2 separate regions of the Homo sapiens genome follow, and region 2 is linked to region 1. Evidence: fine-mapped expression QTL. A gene starts in region 1. The other region holds a variant in brackets. All regions are shown on one strand. Distances are between the middles of the regions.

What was found. PIP is the estimated chance that this variant, and not a neighbour inherited with it, causes the effect.
Region 2: its variant is fine-mapped to the expression of ALS2CL in cerebellar hemisphere (GTEx, PIP above 0.99). The same link has a PIP of 0.9 or more in cerebellum.

The regions. Positions count from the first base shown.
Region 1 is chr3:46,689,690-46,698,071 of GRCh38, reverse strand. It overlaps ALS2CL (ALS2 C-terminal like), which reads left to right and starts at 4,393. Exons shown (of 26, transcript NM_147129.5): 1 at 4,393-4,429. It also overlaps a transcript of TMIE not described here. RefSeq lists enhancers at 1,078-1,577, 2,667-3,456, 5,038-5,829 and silencers at 4,089-4,168, 4,319-4,568, 4,299-4,593.
Region 2 is chr3:46,652,651-46,661,032 of GRCh38, reverse strand. No RefSeq gene overlaps it. Among named protein-coding and RNA genes, the nearest start is that of ALS2CL, 37 kb to the left of the region's middle. RefSeq lists an enhancer at 1-238. The variant A/G (reference allele first, on the strand shown) is at 3,985.

The DNA of each region.
Region 1 (8,382 bases):
AAAAAAGAAACAAAACAAAACAAAACAAAAGAAACAAAAAACCTTGTTGGATCTCTGTCCTATTGTTGGACATTTCCATTGCTTCCAATTCTCCAGTATTAAACACCACGTTAAGGCGAACATCCTGAAAGTTAAAGTAGTTTTGAAAACTCTCTCAAACTATATCTTTTCCTCTGCTCGTACACCAACACAACAACAATCATCCACACAGAAGTCTTCTGTGATCAAATGTGTGGGTTTTTTCCCTAAATGCCAAGCAGCAGACACCAACTGAGTGCCTTCCAATTCGATTCTGACATGATCTACCCGGAGATAGTGTCAGATCCCACAGATTGAGGCCTCAGTTCCCAAGACTGCCCACCCAGCCCCAAGACACCAGTTGCCAGTCTGGCCTCTGGAACTTCTGACCAACTGGCTTCACGCTGGGGTTCCTACAACCTCCTCTTTGGGCTTAATTTGCTGGAGTGGGTCACAGAACTCAGGGAAGCACTGACTGACTTTTACTGGCTTACTGTAAAGGGTATTACGAAGGATACAGCTGAAGAGATGCATAGGGCGAGATATGGAGGAAGGGGTATGGAGCTTCCATGCCCTCCTGGGCATGCCACCCAGCCTCCACACGTTCAGCTATTCAGAAGCCCTCTGAACCCTGTCCTCTTGGGGTTTATGGAGGCTTCACGACATCTGCATTCCTTCCTCCCAGAGTATAGGGCAGGACCCTCTCTGGGGAGGGTCTTAAGACTCGCAATCAGAAAGGTGTGGGAAAATTAGGGTCCTGACTTGGGGCAGGTGAAAGCAGAGCAGGAGAAGGTCAGAGAGATTCCGTTTCCTGGGGCCTGCCCTGAGGCCCAACACATTATAGCCAAAGACCGTAACAAGGGCAATGGGAGCTATGAGCCAGTAGCCGAGGATGAAAATCAATACCTAACACCACATGGGTTTTTTTTTCCCCCATCTTTGAGGGACTTTACATCTCTGAGGGCTTTTCAGTGAGGAATTTAAGCTCATAGAGGGGTTATGCCCTGCCTAAGGTCACACAGGAACTATGGCCTCCACCTCAGCCTTTGCCTCCAACCCAGGACACTGCTCAGTGTCCAGTACTGTTTCTGCTTCTTAGGAGGCCTCCACATCCCCCTGCACCCCAAAATCAGTTGGGCCCATCATATCTGGGGTTGGGGACCTCTGGACTCCAAGTCCCCCACCCTTGCTCCCTGGAAGACAGTGTCCCCTCCATACATGGTGCTGTGAATGCTGGTCTGCAGATCCCTGCTTCTCCCTCCTGTACTAATTTTAGCTCCTGTGAGTTTCCTGTAGGGACCCAGTCCAGCCTCCAGGGCCTCTGAACTGGAAGCTGTGAGCAAGGCAGGGGGTAGTGGCCAGAGGACCCTGTGGAATGTTCTCTCCTGGAGCCTGAAATCCCAGGGCTTAAAGTTTAGCTCTGGGGGAGCTGGGGGTAGGAAATGAGGACCCCCAGTCACAAAGCTAGGCTAGGATCCAGGGACTCAGCCTAGGGTGGGGGTGGGAGCTGGGCAGCCTAGGCCTGTGCCACAGCAGCTGGGGCCTGCTGGGAGTTGGCTGTCCCTGACCTCATCAGCCCCAGGCTCAGCTCAGAATAGCTGTGGGGCTGGGCCAGGCCTGTGTCAGACCTGCGTGTGCTTGAGCATGTGCTTTGTGTACTAAGGCACTGGTGCACATGGGAGTGCATGTGCATTCTGCATGCAGCTTTGTGTGTGGCTGGGTATGAGTCTCAATGGCTCCAGAATCACAGGTGCCATTCACATACGTGTGTGTTCCCTGGAGTAGTGTGCAGGTCTGTGTCCCTGTGGATGGGCACATGATCTGCACACGCATACCCAGGGCTGCCACTAGAGTTGTGCAACTTGGAGTCCTTACCAGTGGGTTCAATGGTAGATGGGTCCATGTGGCACAGGGACCCACCCATTCCCTGACTGTGGAATTGTATCTGTGTGCAGCGGGTGTGGGAGTGGTGTGGGTGGGTATACACATCTGTGGTGGGATTGGCTAGGGGCCCTTGGCTGTGCTGCAGGGGACTGAAGGCAGGTGGACTCAGCAGAGGCTGTCCTTTGGGCACTACCAGAGGCCTTACCTGGCCCCAAGCCAAGAATGAGCTGTAAGAGAGGCTGGGCAGGTCTTGCCCCATTTAGCAGATAGGAAAACTGGGCTTGCAATGCCCATGAGGTCACCCAGGGAATGGGGGAAGGACTGGTCTGCTGCCCAGAGCTCAGTCAGCCTTTCTATTCCCCTAGATGTGGCTGAACAGGAAGTCTGTGCTCTAGGGAGGAAGCCGTGGGAGCCCTTCCCTTCCTGCTCGAGCCCAGGCAGCACTGCCTTCCCTCAGCTGCACGTGCAGATGATGAAAGTGAGGCCCAGAGACACCTAGCATAAGATCAGATCTGTCCTGCTCGGGGCCTTGCCCCACCTGTCCCTGTTCGTCACAAGTGGTGAGGCCATATGCTCCTCCTGAGGCCATGGCCACTCTCCAGCCCTTGCCTCCCTCCTAAGCCCCAGGGATGCCTGGTGGCCCACACCCATGCTCTAGGGGACCCATAGATCCTCTAAACCGTGCTCATCCCTGAAGGAGCCCCTTGAACCCACCATACCCCTCCTCTCAGAGTCCCACATAACCCCGAGAAGGAGGCGCAGGTAAGATATTTCACCAGCAGGGGCACTACGTTACAGAGAGGCCACACACTGCCTGTGATCACACAGCAAGAGGAAAGCAGCACAAGGCCCCATACCAGCTCTTCCAGAATGTACCGCTACCTCCCACTGCCCCACAGGCACAAAGGATCCCCACAGGGAAGACCTTGGAGGCCTGTTTAGAACCTGAAGCCTCAGTTCATTCCACCTGCTGGGGCGGTGGCTCTGCCAGGCTGTGCTGTAGACTCAGGGAGCCAAGTGCCCCAGCAGACAGTCCCGCAGGCCAACAGGGCTGTGAAGGGGAGTGGGGGCCAAGGTCCGGAGCCTGGGGGTGGAGGGCATGGGGAGGGGAGGCTTTCCCAGAGGGCCAGAGGGACACCTCACCAGAAGCCTCCTTGAGGTAGCCCCCACCCACCAACACAGCAACACCTCTAGCAGGCAGGGACCAGAGGAGCAAGGCCTTTGGGAGTGGAGCCCCTCAGGCAGCAGGGGGTGCAGAAGGGGGCAAGAAAACAAGGCTGGAAAAGGGGAGGCCAGAGCTAGGGCGGGCTTTGGCAATGTGGGGAGGGATGGAGAAGCAGGAAGGGGCGGCTCTGCAGGATTGGGACCCAGGAGGAGAGCAATGTGGGGCAAAAGGGTGAGGTCACTGGGACCTGCAGTCACTCAGACAAGGGTCCCAGGCTGGAAACCCTCCAAGGGGTGATGTGCAGCTTGGCAGACAGTAAACTCCCACCTCGCAACAACCCAAGGGAGCCAGGGGATGAGCTTGGCAGGCCCCAGGCCCCTACTTACCTCCACTGGGGGTCTCTTCAGCCTGGCAGGTTGGGGGATGCCTCCCACCTCCTCAGTAGGGGGCTGAGTAGGGGGCTGGTGGGCCACCCTTTCTGCTCTTCCACGGCCGCCTTGGACCCTGAGCCTCCCCCTCACTGGAACCTGAGTGCCACTGAGAGCAATGGGTGACTAACCTGGTGGCCAGAGGGGGAATCAGGCTGCTGACGGGGGGCTTCTTTGTTACAGGTTTGAACTAAGTTCCCTCCCGCTCCCGGGGGGTCTGTCCCAGATAAGTCTTCAGCCACCCTTTCCAAGGTCTCAGGCCTTCGCACAAAGCACACGCGGCCGGCTTCATGCTCTACTAGGCCTGTTGAGACTCAGGAGTGGGGAGGAAAGGGGACTTCCCCAAGGTCGCACAGGAGGGGCGGCCGGCCGTGGACACCCAGCCCAGGGGGCCGCAGGGCGCCTCAGTATACCCCTCTACAGGCTCCAAGTTCCACGAACCCACACAGCGCTCCGCGTGTGCTGGCTTCTGTGACTCAGGGCAGACCCGGGAGGTCACGGGGCTGCACCACAGGCTCGCAGAGCGACTGACTGGCGGGGCGAGGTGGTGGCACGGCGGCCTCGGAGCCTTGCAGGGGAAGCGGGGCGCGAGAGGCGAGCCTGAGTGTGCGCGTGGGTGCGTAGGGGGCGGAGGGGTCAAGACTCCCACTTTTCCTCCCCGCGCCGGGTCCCAGGGGCCTCCGGATCCCGGGGGACGCCAGAGGGAGGCCTCAGGAGAGGCTTGGGGCGGCGGGACGGATCAATACCGCGCGCCAGCTCCTCGGTGGCCCGCCCGTGGCCCCCGCAACTCCAGAGCAACACCCGGAGGCGGGGCGGGGCGGGGCTGGGCGAAGGGGGCGGGGCTGGCAGGGGGCGGGACTGGCAGGGGGCAGGGTGGGGGTGCGAGCGAGGAGCCGCACAGGCAGTCCCGGCGCGGGGCAACCACAGCGCTCAGGTAAGGGCGCGACGAAGGGCGCGCGTCTGCGGACGGGTGTCTGCGCTCCACGCTTAGCTCGTCCAGGTGGGGGCTCCCGCCTCCTCGGCTGCTGCGGTCCCCGCCCAGCTCCTTGGTCCCGGCGGCAGTCATCCCCCGGCCGTCCGAGTCCCTCGTAAGATACCCCGCTCACAGCGTCGTCCTCCCTGCCTGGCTGCTAGCCTGCTTGGGTTCGGGGCAGCGCCCCGGGCCTGACCTGAGCCGTGGTGGCAGGGCCACGGGGCCCCAGCCAGCAGGAGAGACTGCCAGGAGGAGGTGACGCCGGCTGGTTAGGGCGGAAGGGCCCGACCCGGGATTCCAGGAGGTGGCCTTTTCGCATGGGAGCGGCATGGCAAATGCCTGGCGGCCGGAACAGGAGCTCGGGTCTGGGAAACTCCAGCGACTGAGTGTGTGCCTGGGCAGGGAGAGGAAGGGAAGCTGGGACATATGCGACAGCAGGGAGGGGTGCTTGTCTAGGACAAGAGGCTTGTAGCCATGGTGGGGCCGAGGAAGGGTGCAGCGGGGAGAGGCGAGCATGAGACTGAGGGATCAGGTGTGACAGTTCAGCGCCCCCTCCCTGGGGCAGTGCGTGTCTCTACTCTCCCCCACTGGGCACCAGACAACGAAGGGGCTGCCACGGCAGCCCATGAAAAAGCCTCCACAGCAGGCAGAACTTCCCTGCCTGTTCAGACCAGGAAATACCAGAGTGAGTGAGTGTCACGACAAGGTGTGTCAGGGGCCTAAGGAGCCAGGCCTGGGAGAGGACAGGGAAGGCCCCAGTGACCCTGCCCGGGAGGGACCTAGCGTGGACAGAGGCCAGGAATGCAGAGGAGAGACCAGGTCTGGCTACTGGTTAGAGCGCCACAGGGGCAGCCGCTGACTCACCTGGGCACGCCGTGACTGGCCAGTTCTGTCCTCACCCTGCCCCACCCCACCGCACCCCGTGGTGAGCATCAGGGCTGCCTGAGGACAGCTGTGAGGCAGGGCCCGTCAGGATCTTGCTCTGTGCCTCAGGTGAGTTGCCCACCCTCTCTGAGCCATCTAGCTAGGTGAACCTGGTGGGCTGGAGCCAGAAGTCTGGGTCTGAGCCCTGCACAAGTTCTACACAAGGGTCTCTGGACCCTCCCATTGTTCCTGGGCCTCAGTTTCCCCATCTGTACATTAGGCACAGCCTGTCACTAAGGAACCTTTGAACTGGAGGGAGGGAGAGGGTGAGGAAGCTATGCCCTTGACTGGAAGGGGGAAGGTTAGGGATGGGACAGGGGTTGGGGAGGGGGGTACTCCTGCAGGATCCTCCTCATATTAAGGTTCAGCACCTCCTCCTCCTGCCCTGCAAACGTGCACACTCATGCACATTCACGCTGCCTCACCCCTGCACTTACACTCTCCTCATCACTTCCAGGATGAAGCCCCAGACTCCCTAGCCTGGGAGCTGGGTCCCTCAGGGTCACCTAACCAGAATCCCAGCTTCCACTGCGGCCTTCCCCCAACCCACTGCCTCACCAGCCATGCTTAACTTCTGCCCGTTCCTCTGGGTGGTGTGACTCAGTTTCCCAGGGTTATAGATCCCTTTGGGGCCACAGATGTGGAAGACTCCCAGATTAACAGTTGCCAACTTGAGTCTGGAGGACTCACCCCCGGAGTCATAGGCTGCTTTGTGGGGTGGGGAGTCTAAGGACCAGATCCCCACACCCAGAGAAGCCCCCTTCCACCTGTTTGTCCTTTTGAGGGGAGACTTAAGTAGTTTGAAAAGCTGTGATCCTCTTTGGCTGGGCGCAGTGGCTCACGCCTGTAATCCCAGCACTTTGGGAGGCCAAGATGGGTTGATCACTTGAGGCTAGGAGTTTGAGACCAGCCTCGTCAACATAGTGAGATCCCATCTCTAAAAAAAAAAAAAAAAAAGAATAGAAAGAAATACAAACAAATAAAAAGAAAAAAATGCTGTGATCTGGTTGAACCCCCATTTCGTAGAGGGGTGGCTGAGGTACAGAGAGGAGTAAGGCTGTGGATAAGTTGAAGCATGTCCAGGGCTGAGCAGCCAGGTGAGGGCTGCTCCTGGGGGAGCAGCTGAGACTGGGCAGTGGGGACGAGGGACAGGAAGCCTGAGGAGGAGAGGCTATCTCTAGGGTCAGAGAGCTCCTTGCCAGGGTATGGTGTCGGCTGGGGTCATGGTGCTGGCCCCCCGGAGAGTGTAGGGATGTTGGTGTTCAAGTCTTCCTAGCAGCGAGTTATTTACTGCAGTATCTTTTCAACGTGCACTGATCTGGTTCCTAGTCTGCATCTCCTATCCTAGCCTCACCCTTTCTTCTACCTTCCCAACCAGGCTTGGATATCCTCACCTCTTAGCTTAGACCCCAGCTGACTGCCAGCTGAGAGTGAAAAGGTCACCCCCAAAGCGCCTTTCCATTCCAGCAGTTTCGGGAGATACGGGTGAGAGTTAGGTGGGCCTGGCTGCACCCCTATTCCCTTGGCTGGGCTTTCCTTGTCTGCCTGAGCTGACCTGGAGCCCCCTGTGTCCTGGGGGCCTGGGTCTGCCTCAGGGGCCCACAGAGGGAGAAGAAGCTGCAGCACAGAAGCTGCAGCTGGGTGTCTGGTGGCTTCCCCTTCCTGCCTCTCTCTCTGCAGCCTCACCCTCTCGAAGCAGCAGTAGCAGGAAAGGTGGGGCAGGAATGCCTGGCCTGGGCCTTTGGCCAGAGCTCTGAGGGACCCGCCCCACTCCATTCCAGAGCCAATTCCCTGGGAGTTGTAGGCTCTGCCAGGGGCCTGGGATGCCCGCATGGCACTCTCGGGGCAGGGTGGAGAGGGGAGGGCTGAGACCCCTTCCCACTCACCCTTTTGGGTCTGCCTGTGTCACCTGCCCATCGTTGGCTGCCCTGATTTTGTCCCCTGCCCCACACAGGTTGGCTAACTCCAAAGCCTCAGCGTGTCAGAGACAAGGAGAGAGACAGTCTGCGGGTCTTGGGCTAAAAGACCCTCTAACTCTCCGCCCCAGATACCTGATCAGGTCATTTGGGCAGATGAACATTGCCAAGTGAGGGTACCAGGGTCTGGTAGGGGAGGGCTTTGTTGGAGTAGAGCCTGTAGCCTGGCTGTGGGGGTAGGTTTGAGCCCAGGCCTCTCTTCACCCCTCCCTTTAGGCAGGACACTGCATTCCCAGGTGATTCCTGCCTGATTGGAAGGTCCCTCACTCCAGGGCAGGAAATCTCAAGGCTCAAGCCCACCTGCCCACCCCAAGGGCCCCCACCCATCCAGCAGGCACCCCTTCAGGGTGGATGGTTGTGATCAGTGATCCCTCTGTCTGGTTAGGGGACCATGGAGGGTCCAGGCTCCCATCCACATTGAACTCTCTCTCACTGCCTGGCACTATCTCCTCTACAACTGTCATACATTTATTTCCCCAAATGTGACTTTGGATCCCATCATTACCTTGCTCTAAAGTCCTCCATGGCTGTCCACGGCCGACTGAGGCACAGTGAAGCTGTGGTCCTTTGGGGTGCTGCTTGGTGGGCTGCCCTCAGAGGCTGGGCCCTCACACCCATGAGCCTTTACTCTCAGGGTTCCTCCACTTGCCTGCTGGGTCCTGTCTTCCTTTTCATTTCTTGCCCATCATTCGTGGCTCTAGCAGGAGGCCTCCGGACTCCCCCATACCTCCAAAACTCTCCTTGCTTACACAGCCTGGTTGGGTGACAGGGAGTCCCGAACCATGGGCTAGAGGACAGGGCTGGGATCCTCTGACAGTATGACCCTGTTTATAGAGACTGCAGAATCCCTGAAGGGAGACTTGATGGAAAGGAGGCTAAGACCAGGGCACTACTAATACTATCCTGGGCACTTGGGATCCATGGTGGATATTTGAGCAGAGGAATGAGCAGGCCAAACTGGGCTTAAAGAACATCTACCCTTTGGGGAAGAAAGGGTTGCTTCCCTTGGCAGCT
Region 2 (8,382 bases), 37 kb after region 1:
GGGGATTTGGCTGTCTTCCTTGGCTCCCGGAGCTCAGAGCAGTGCTGCAGCTCATGCCAGGGCATGTGAAGACAGAGCTAACTGGAGTGCATGGGGTGCCTTTGGGTGGAGGTTGCTGATGGCTGGGACAGATGCACCCTGCCCACTGTCTCCTCTGGGGACAGTGACATCTTTCCCTGCTCTGATAGCTTGAAAGGACCTGCATGGCTGAGCTGCCCAGGGGAGCATTGAGGTGCTTCCTCTGTGTCCTGAGGAGCCAGGTGCTCTCTGCACCCCCAGCTGCTGGAGCCCAGAGGGTGGCAGCCTGGAGCTGGGGCAGCGGTGCCTGGTGCAGTGAGGACTCGGTCTGTGTGGCCTGGTTAGCACAGGACCATGAGGAAGGGGTGAGGACCATCAATAAGAGGCCATCTCCAAGGCCTGCCTTCAGAGGCAAGCTCTTCTCTCCCACACAATTGCTTTGATCCTCGTGGGAAATGTGGTGGACCCTTTTAAGGGGCGGCAGAGAGCACTGGAGGAGAGAGAAAGGGGCCAGCAGGCACATGGGAGATACCTTGACCTCAGGGAACCACTGTTTCAAACCAGAAAGGATCTTTTATACCTTGCTGTCATGCAGCCAAACCAGGCGGACATACGAGCAAGCAGGTGCACCCACGCATCTGTACATGAGCAGTGCGGACAAGTGGCTGCAGGAGGCCCCCGGCCTGTCTCAGGCACTAGCACAGGACTATTCATCACTGGTTCCTGCATTTCTTTCAGGTTTGGCCAAGGCATCCCCAGGGACAAGCACGGATGACAGCAGGTGAGCTGAAATCAACCTGTGCTTACACAGTGAGTCTTGCCAGTGCCTCTGAGGAAAGATGACCTTGGGGAAGTGAGTGGTCATTGGTTTCCTGTGTGCCCGGTCCTTCTGGAGAAAGAGTCTGCAAAACATGCCTAGTCTGTGTGGTCACAGCAGGAAGAGGGCAGAGGTGGGGGCCCTGTCTTAGCAGACAGCACCATGAAACTGGATCTTGAAGAATGAATTTGCCAGAGGGAGGAATGGCTTGCCTGGCAGGGGGGAAGGCAGAGTCAAAGGCCCAGAGGTAGAAGGGCATGACTTTCCAGAATGCAGAGAGCTGGGAAATGAGTTGCAGGGAGGTCAGGCAAACCCCAAGTGAGAAAGACTTTCAAAACCTGCAGGGGCATTTCCCCATATCCCCTAATGTTCAGCCTCTCAGTATTTTTTTTTCTGCCCTGGTGGTGGCTTTCAAACATATCCACCAATTCTTCCACACTCTCCCCATCAAGACACAGAGGCCACGAACCTCACCTTAAACCACAGCCCTTAATGATTACAGCAGGAGAGAGCCGAGTGCCTTCTGAGGCTGCTTATAGAAAGCCACATAGGTCCTGCCAGTTCTCCTGGGATCCTTGTTCTGGGAGCCTTTAACCATCATGCTGGGAGTCTGGCAGCCCTGAGCTGCTGTGTGGGGACGCCTCAGAGAGAGAGACCCAATAGGCCCAGCCTATCCAGCATCCAGTGCCTGGAGTCTTACCAGCCCAGACACTGGGCGCGTGAGTGAGGACACTCGCGTGTGACTGCAGCCTCCATGGACTGGAACCTTAGAGATGCCCCCAGGCAACAGCTGCCTAGCAGCCCAGTCAGCCCCAGATTCCTGAGCAAAATAAACCTCGGCTATTGTTTCAAGCCATTGTTTTGGGATGGCTTTTTAGTGCAGCACTAGGTAAACGGAACAGTCCTTGCCAAACCTACTATTCATCATTTAACTTTTAGAGTTTTTCTATACTTCTACTTAAAAATGGGAATCTGTTAAAATGGGAAACTTCATATCCCTGTGTACGTGGAAATCCAGCATCAATGACCGTAAACGGAAGACAATTCTATAAACACAGAGGAAAAAAATGCATGTGTTTGGTTTCTACACAGATGCTGCTGTCTCTTGGGGCCTGCACCTCGGCAGAGGCTGATTCCAGCTTGCAGTTCTCCGCCACTTGCAGGTGCGGCATTGAAATCATTCCTTGGTATTATCTGTCTTTGTGATTAATGATAGTTTAAGATGGTACACAGCCACAACAAGTAACAGAATTTAATTTCACTAGAAATTTTAAATTGCAGAGGTGAAACAACAGAATGCCCCTTGGTGAAAGAGCAATGTCAAGCAGATGAGTAGTTTTTCCACAGTAAAAGTAACTCAGCAATTAATATTTATTTTTGGTTACAGGCGGGCATGCAGAGCATTTTTTTTTTTTTGAGACAGAGTCTCAGTCACCCAAGCTGGAGTGCAGTGGCGCAATCTCAGCTCACTGCAATCTCTGCCTCCCAGGTTTAAGTGATTCTCCTGCCTCAGCCTCCCATGTAGCTGGGATTACAGGTGTGCGCCATCATGCCCAGCTAATTTTTGTATTTTTGGTAGAGACGGGATTTCACTATGTTGGCCAGCCTGGTCTCAAACCCCTGACCTCAGGTGATCTGCCCGCCTCGGCCTCCCAAAGTGCTGGGGTTACAGGCATGAGCCACCATGCCCGGGCTCAAAGCATTCTTTAAATGAAATGTTTAGTATAGTCAAATACTGATAACCTGCTGGGTGGAGATCAAGGCGCGACTGGACTAAATTCACCAGGTGCTAGTCATTGAGTGTCTGCTGTGAGGCAGATGCCTTGCTAAGGCTGGGCATTAAAAAATGCCCAGTAGGCTGGGTGCAGTGGTTCCCAGCAGTTAGGGAGGCCAAGGTGGGAGGATCACTTGAGCTCAGGAGTTTGAGACTAGCCTCGGCAACATAGTGAGACCTCATCTGTATAAACATTTTAAAAATTAGCTGGGCATGGTGGCATGTGCCTGTAGTCCCAGCTACTCAGGAGGCTGAGGCAGGAGGATTACTTGAGCCCAAGAGGTTGAGGCTGCAGTGAGCCTTGTTTGCACCACTGCACTCTAGCTGGGGCAACATAGTGAGATCCCATCTCCACCAAAAAAAAAAAAAAAAGAGGTCCAGCATTTAGTTCTTAACTCCATTGGTTCAACATGTAAATAATTCTTCTCTGCACTACCTCCTGTCCAGTTCTGCTACCACCCCTTAGTTCAGTTTCTCCTTCCTTCTGTCTTGCAAATGTCATGGGTGATTTCCTGTGGTTAGTGTGGATTCCCTCCACAAATCACAGGGCAACTTTCTAGCATCCCAGTTCTGAGTCAACTGCACAACAGGAAAGGCACCTTCTGGAATTGACTTCTACCCTCCTTTCCAGCCACAATCCTGGCATTTATTGAACCTTGTAATCTATAATTCTGCCATATGAGTCTTCTAAAACAGTGGCCCCCAACCTTTTTGGCACCGGAGACCAGTTTTGTGGAAGACAATTTTTCCACAGACTAGGGGCGGGGTGGGGAGGTGATTTCGGGATGATTCAAGCGCATTACGTTTATTGTGCACTTTATTTCTATTATTATTACATTGTAATATGTAAAGAAATGATTATACAACTCACCAGAATGCAGAGTCAGTAGGAGCCCTGAGCTTGTTTTCCTGCAACTAGAGATGGTCCTATCAAAGGGTGATGGGAGACAGTGACAGATCATCAAGCATTAGGTTATGGTAAGGAACCTGCAACCTAGATCCCTCGCATGCGCAGTTCACAATGGGGTTTGCACTCCTATGAGAATCTAATGCTGCTGATCAGACAGGAGGAGGTGCTCAGGTGGTAATGCCGGTGATGGGGCGTGGCTGTAAATACAGGCGAAGCTTTGCTTACTCACCCACTGCTCACCTTCTGCTCTATGGCCTGGCTCCTAACAGGCCATGGACCAGTACTGCGAAGGGGGTTGGGGACCCCTGTTCCAGAATTTACCCTAATTCTCCATGCCCATTCACTCCTCAATGCCCAGCTGATTTTAATATTGTTCTTCTGATTTTAATGTTGTTCTGTATTGGTCAAGTTTGCAGCAGGAGACAGATGGTCCTCTTGATAGATGGAACCATAGGGCCTCTTTCC[A/G]AAAGTGTGGGCTGTGTTTAGAGAAACTAACAAGGAGAGGAATCACCCTGCGGCTAGCAATAATGGTGAGACACTTAGTATTACTAGCCCTGATGGGGCAACAGAGAAGGACTTTAATGAGAAACAGGTGAGAGAAGGGTTGAAAGAGGGCCCCCTGCAGAGGCTGCTGTATGCGTTGGTGTTGGCACTGGGCGGCCCAGAATAAAACAACCACTCCATATGCTGCACCCAGCTGGGAGCCAGAGGCCCCCAGAATCTGGTTGCAGAGAGAGATGTAAAAGAGTGTAGAGCAGGTCTAAAAGGGTAAATGGGAGCTATCCAGCTTGCCTCTTCAATGGATTTGTTTTTATATTTATTTCAATAGTTTTTGGGGTATAGTTGGGCTTTGGTTACATGGATAAGTTCTTTCGTGGTGATTTCTGAGATTTAGTGCATCCATAAAGCAGTGTATACTGTACCCAGTATATGGTCTTTTATCCTTCACTCTGCTCCCAACTGTCCCCCTCCCAAGTTTCCACAGTCCATTATGACGTTCTTAGGCATTTGCGTCCTCATAATTTAGCTTTCACTTATGAGTGAGAACATATGGTATTTGGTTTTCCATTCCTAAGTTACTTCATTTAGAATAGTGGCCTCCAGCTCCATCCAAGTTGCTGCAAAAGACATTATTTTGTTCCTTTTTATGGCTGAGATGTATTCCATGATGTATATATACCATATTTTCTTGATCCACTTGTTGGTCAATGGGCATTTAGATTGGTTCCATATCTTTGCAATTGTGAATTGTGCTGCTATAAACATGCGTGTGCAAGTGTCTTTTTCATGTAATGACTTCTTTTCCTCTGGGTAGATACCCAGTCGTGGGATTGCTGGATTGAATGGTAGATCTACTTTTAGTTCTTTAAGGAATCTCCACACTGTTTTCTACAGTATGGTTGTACTAATTTACATCCCCACCAGCAATGTGAAAGTGTTCTCTTTTCACTACTTCCACACCATCAATATCTATTGTTTTGTGACTTTTTAATTATGGCCATTCTTGCAGGAGTAAGGTGGTATGTTATTGTAGTTTTAATTTGCATTTCCCTGATGATTAGTGATGTTGAGCATTTTTTTCATGTGTTTGTTGACTGTATATCTTCTTTTGAGAACTGTCTATTCTTCTTCTTTTTTTTTGAGGTGGAGTCTCGCTCTGTTGCCCAAGGCTGGAGTGCAGTGGTGCGATCTCGGCTCACTGCAAGCTCCGCCTTCTGGGTTCACGCCATTCTCCTGCCTCAGCCTCCTGAGTAGCTGGGACTACAGGTGCCCGCCACCATGCCCCGCTAATTTTTTGTATTTTTAGTAGAGACGGGGTTTCACCGTGTTAGCCAGGATGGTCTTGATCTCCTGACCTCGTGATCTGCCCACCTCAGCCTCCTAAAGTGCTGGATTACAGGCGTGAGCCACTGTGCCCGGCCGAGAACTGTCTATTCTTATCCACCGCCCACTTTTTGATGGGATTATTTGTTTTTTTCTTGCTGAGTTGTTTGAGTTCCACAGGTTCATTTCTACTTGCTGAGAAACTCTTAGCACATGCATCATCTCCTTTGGGAATTATTCTCTGACCAGCCGAGGCTGCCACATTTATCTCTTCTGGCTTTTCTCACTTCCTGGATATCCCTGTGGTAGAACTTTCTACTCCATAGCAAAAGGATACCTTTACTTGCCTTCATCATTTTTCATGAAATCTCATTGCTATTCCAATGCTATTGAGCTAGCAGAGAATTTGGAATCACATAGTCTAAGAGTTAAAGCCTCACTCTGCTACTTCAACAACATTTAACATCAGATGCAACATTTAACTTCTGTTTAGAAAAATGTTGATGATGATAATACCTAATTAATTTTTATGGATTAAAAGGCAACTCACTGGCATCTTTCATATTCTTGGCTGCATATCAGCTTTTCATTAGACTTTTAAAAGATAGATTTCTTTTTTTGGTCAGGTGTGGTGGCTCACACCTGTAATCCCAGCATTTTGGGAGGCTGAGGTGGGCAGATCACCTGAGGTCAGGAGTTCAAGACCAGCCTGGCCACTGTGATGAAATCCCGTCTCTGCTAAAAATACAAAAATTAGCTGGGCGCGGTGGCAGGTGCCTGTAATCACAGCTACTCGGGAGGCTGAGGCAGGAGAATTGCTTGAACCCGGGAAGCGGAGGTTGCAGCAAGCCGAGATGCCCCACTGCACTCCAGCCTGGGCAACAGACCAAGCAAGACTCTGTCTCAAAATACACACACACACACACACACACACATAGTTTTTAGAGTAGTTTTAGGTTCACAGCAAAAGTATACAGAAAGTGCAGAGTTCCCACACACCTTTAGCCCCTATCCATGCATAGCCTCCCCATCTATTAACAATCTGCACCAGAATGGTGCTTGTTAAAACCAATGAACCTTCATTAACATGTCATTATTGCCCAAAGTCCAAAATTTACATTAGTATTGTTCATTCTATGGGTTTTGACAAATGTATAATGACATAGATCCGTCATTAATAGAATCATACAGAATAGTTTCACTGCCCTAAAAATCCTCTGTGTGGTACTGGCATGGAGACAGAGATATAGACCAATGAAACACACTGAAAAGCCCAGAAATAAACCCCTTGCCATCTGTATTCTCCTTTGGTGAGGTGTCTTCAGGTCTTTTGCCCATGTTTAAATCAAACTGTTCTTTTACTTATTGTTTTTTAAAGAGTTCTTTGTTTTGCATTACAGTCTTATGTCAGGCATATATTTGGCAGAAATATTTTCTCCCAGTCTATGACTTCTCTTCTCCTTCTCTTGACAGTGCCTTTCACAAAGCAGAAGGTTTTTTGTTGTTGTTGTTGTTGTTGTTGTTGTTGTTGTTGTTGTTTTGAGACGGAGTCTCGCTCTCGCTCTGTTGCCCAGGCTGGAGTGCAATGGCGCAATCTCAGCTCACTGCAATCTCTGTCTCCCGGCTCCAAGCAATTCTCTTACTTCAGCCTCCTGAGTAGCTGGGATTATAGGCGCGCACCACCACACCCAGCTAATTTTTGTATTTTTAGTAGAGACGGGGTTTCATCATATTGGTCAGGCTGGTTTCAAACTCCTGACCTCATGATCCACCTGCCTTGGCCTCCCAAAGTGCTGGGATTAAAGGCGTGAGCCACCGCGCCCGGCTAGAAGTTTTTAAATCTTTTTTTTTTTTTTTTTGATACAGGATTTCATCCAGACTGGAGTGCAGTGGCACAATCACAGCTCACTGCAGCCATGACTTCAGGTGATACTCCCATCCCAGCCTCCTGAGTAGCTGGGACTACAAGTGCATACCACCACACCCGGCTAATTTTTGTATTTTTTGTAGAGACGGGGTTTTGCCATGTTGCCCAGGCTGGTCTCAGACTCCTGGGCTCAAGTGATCCTCCCACCTCAGTCTCCCAAACTGTTGGGATTATAAGCATGAACCACTGCACCAGGCTGAAGTTTTTAATTTTAATGAAGTCCAGCTTATCAATTATTTATTTCATGGATTGTATCTAAAAGGTCATTGCCATACCCAAGGTCATCTAGATTTTCTCTTATGTTGTCTTCTAGGAGTTTCACAGTTTTACATTCAGGTCTATGATCCACTTTGTTTTAATTTTTGCAAAAAGTGTAAGGCGTGTGTCTAGATTCATGTTTTGGCATGTAAATGTCCAGGTGTTTCAGCACCATTTGTTGAAGAGACTATCTTTTTTCCATTGTATTGCCTTTGCTCCTCTGTAAAAAATCAGTTGGCTATATCTATGTGGGCCTATTTCTAAGCTCTCAATTCTGTCCCATTTATCTATTTGTTTCTCCTCTTACCAATACCACACTGCCTTAATTACTGTAGCTTTATAATATGTCTTTTTTTTTTTTTTTTTTTTGAGATGGAGTCTCACTCTGTCACCTAGGCTGGAGTGCAGTGGTGTGATCTTAGCTCACTGCAACCTCCACCTTCCGGGTTCAAGCAATTCTTGTGCCTCAGCCTCCCAAGTTGCTGGGACTGCAGGCACATACCACCACGCCTGTAGTCCCAGGCGTGTATTTTTAGTAGAGACAAGGTTTCACTATGTTGGCCAGGCTCGTCTTGAACTCCTGACTTCAGGTGATCCACCAACCTCGGCTTCCCAAGGTGCTGGGATTACAGGCATGAGCCACTGTGCCAACCTATAGTAAGTCTTAAAGTTGGGTAGTAACAGTGCTCTGACTTTGTTCTCCTTCAATATTGTGTTGGCCGTTCTGGATCTTATGCCTTTAGATATGTAAACTTTAGAATTGGTTTGTCAATATCCACAAAATAACTTGTTAGGATTTTGATTGGGATTATGCTGACTCTATAGTTCAAACTGGGATGAACTGACATCTTGAT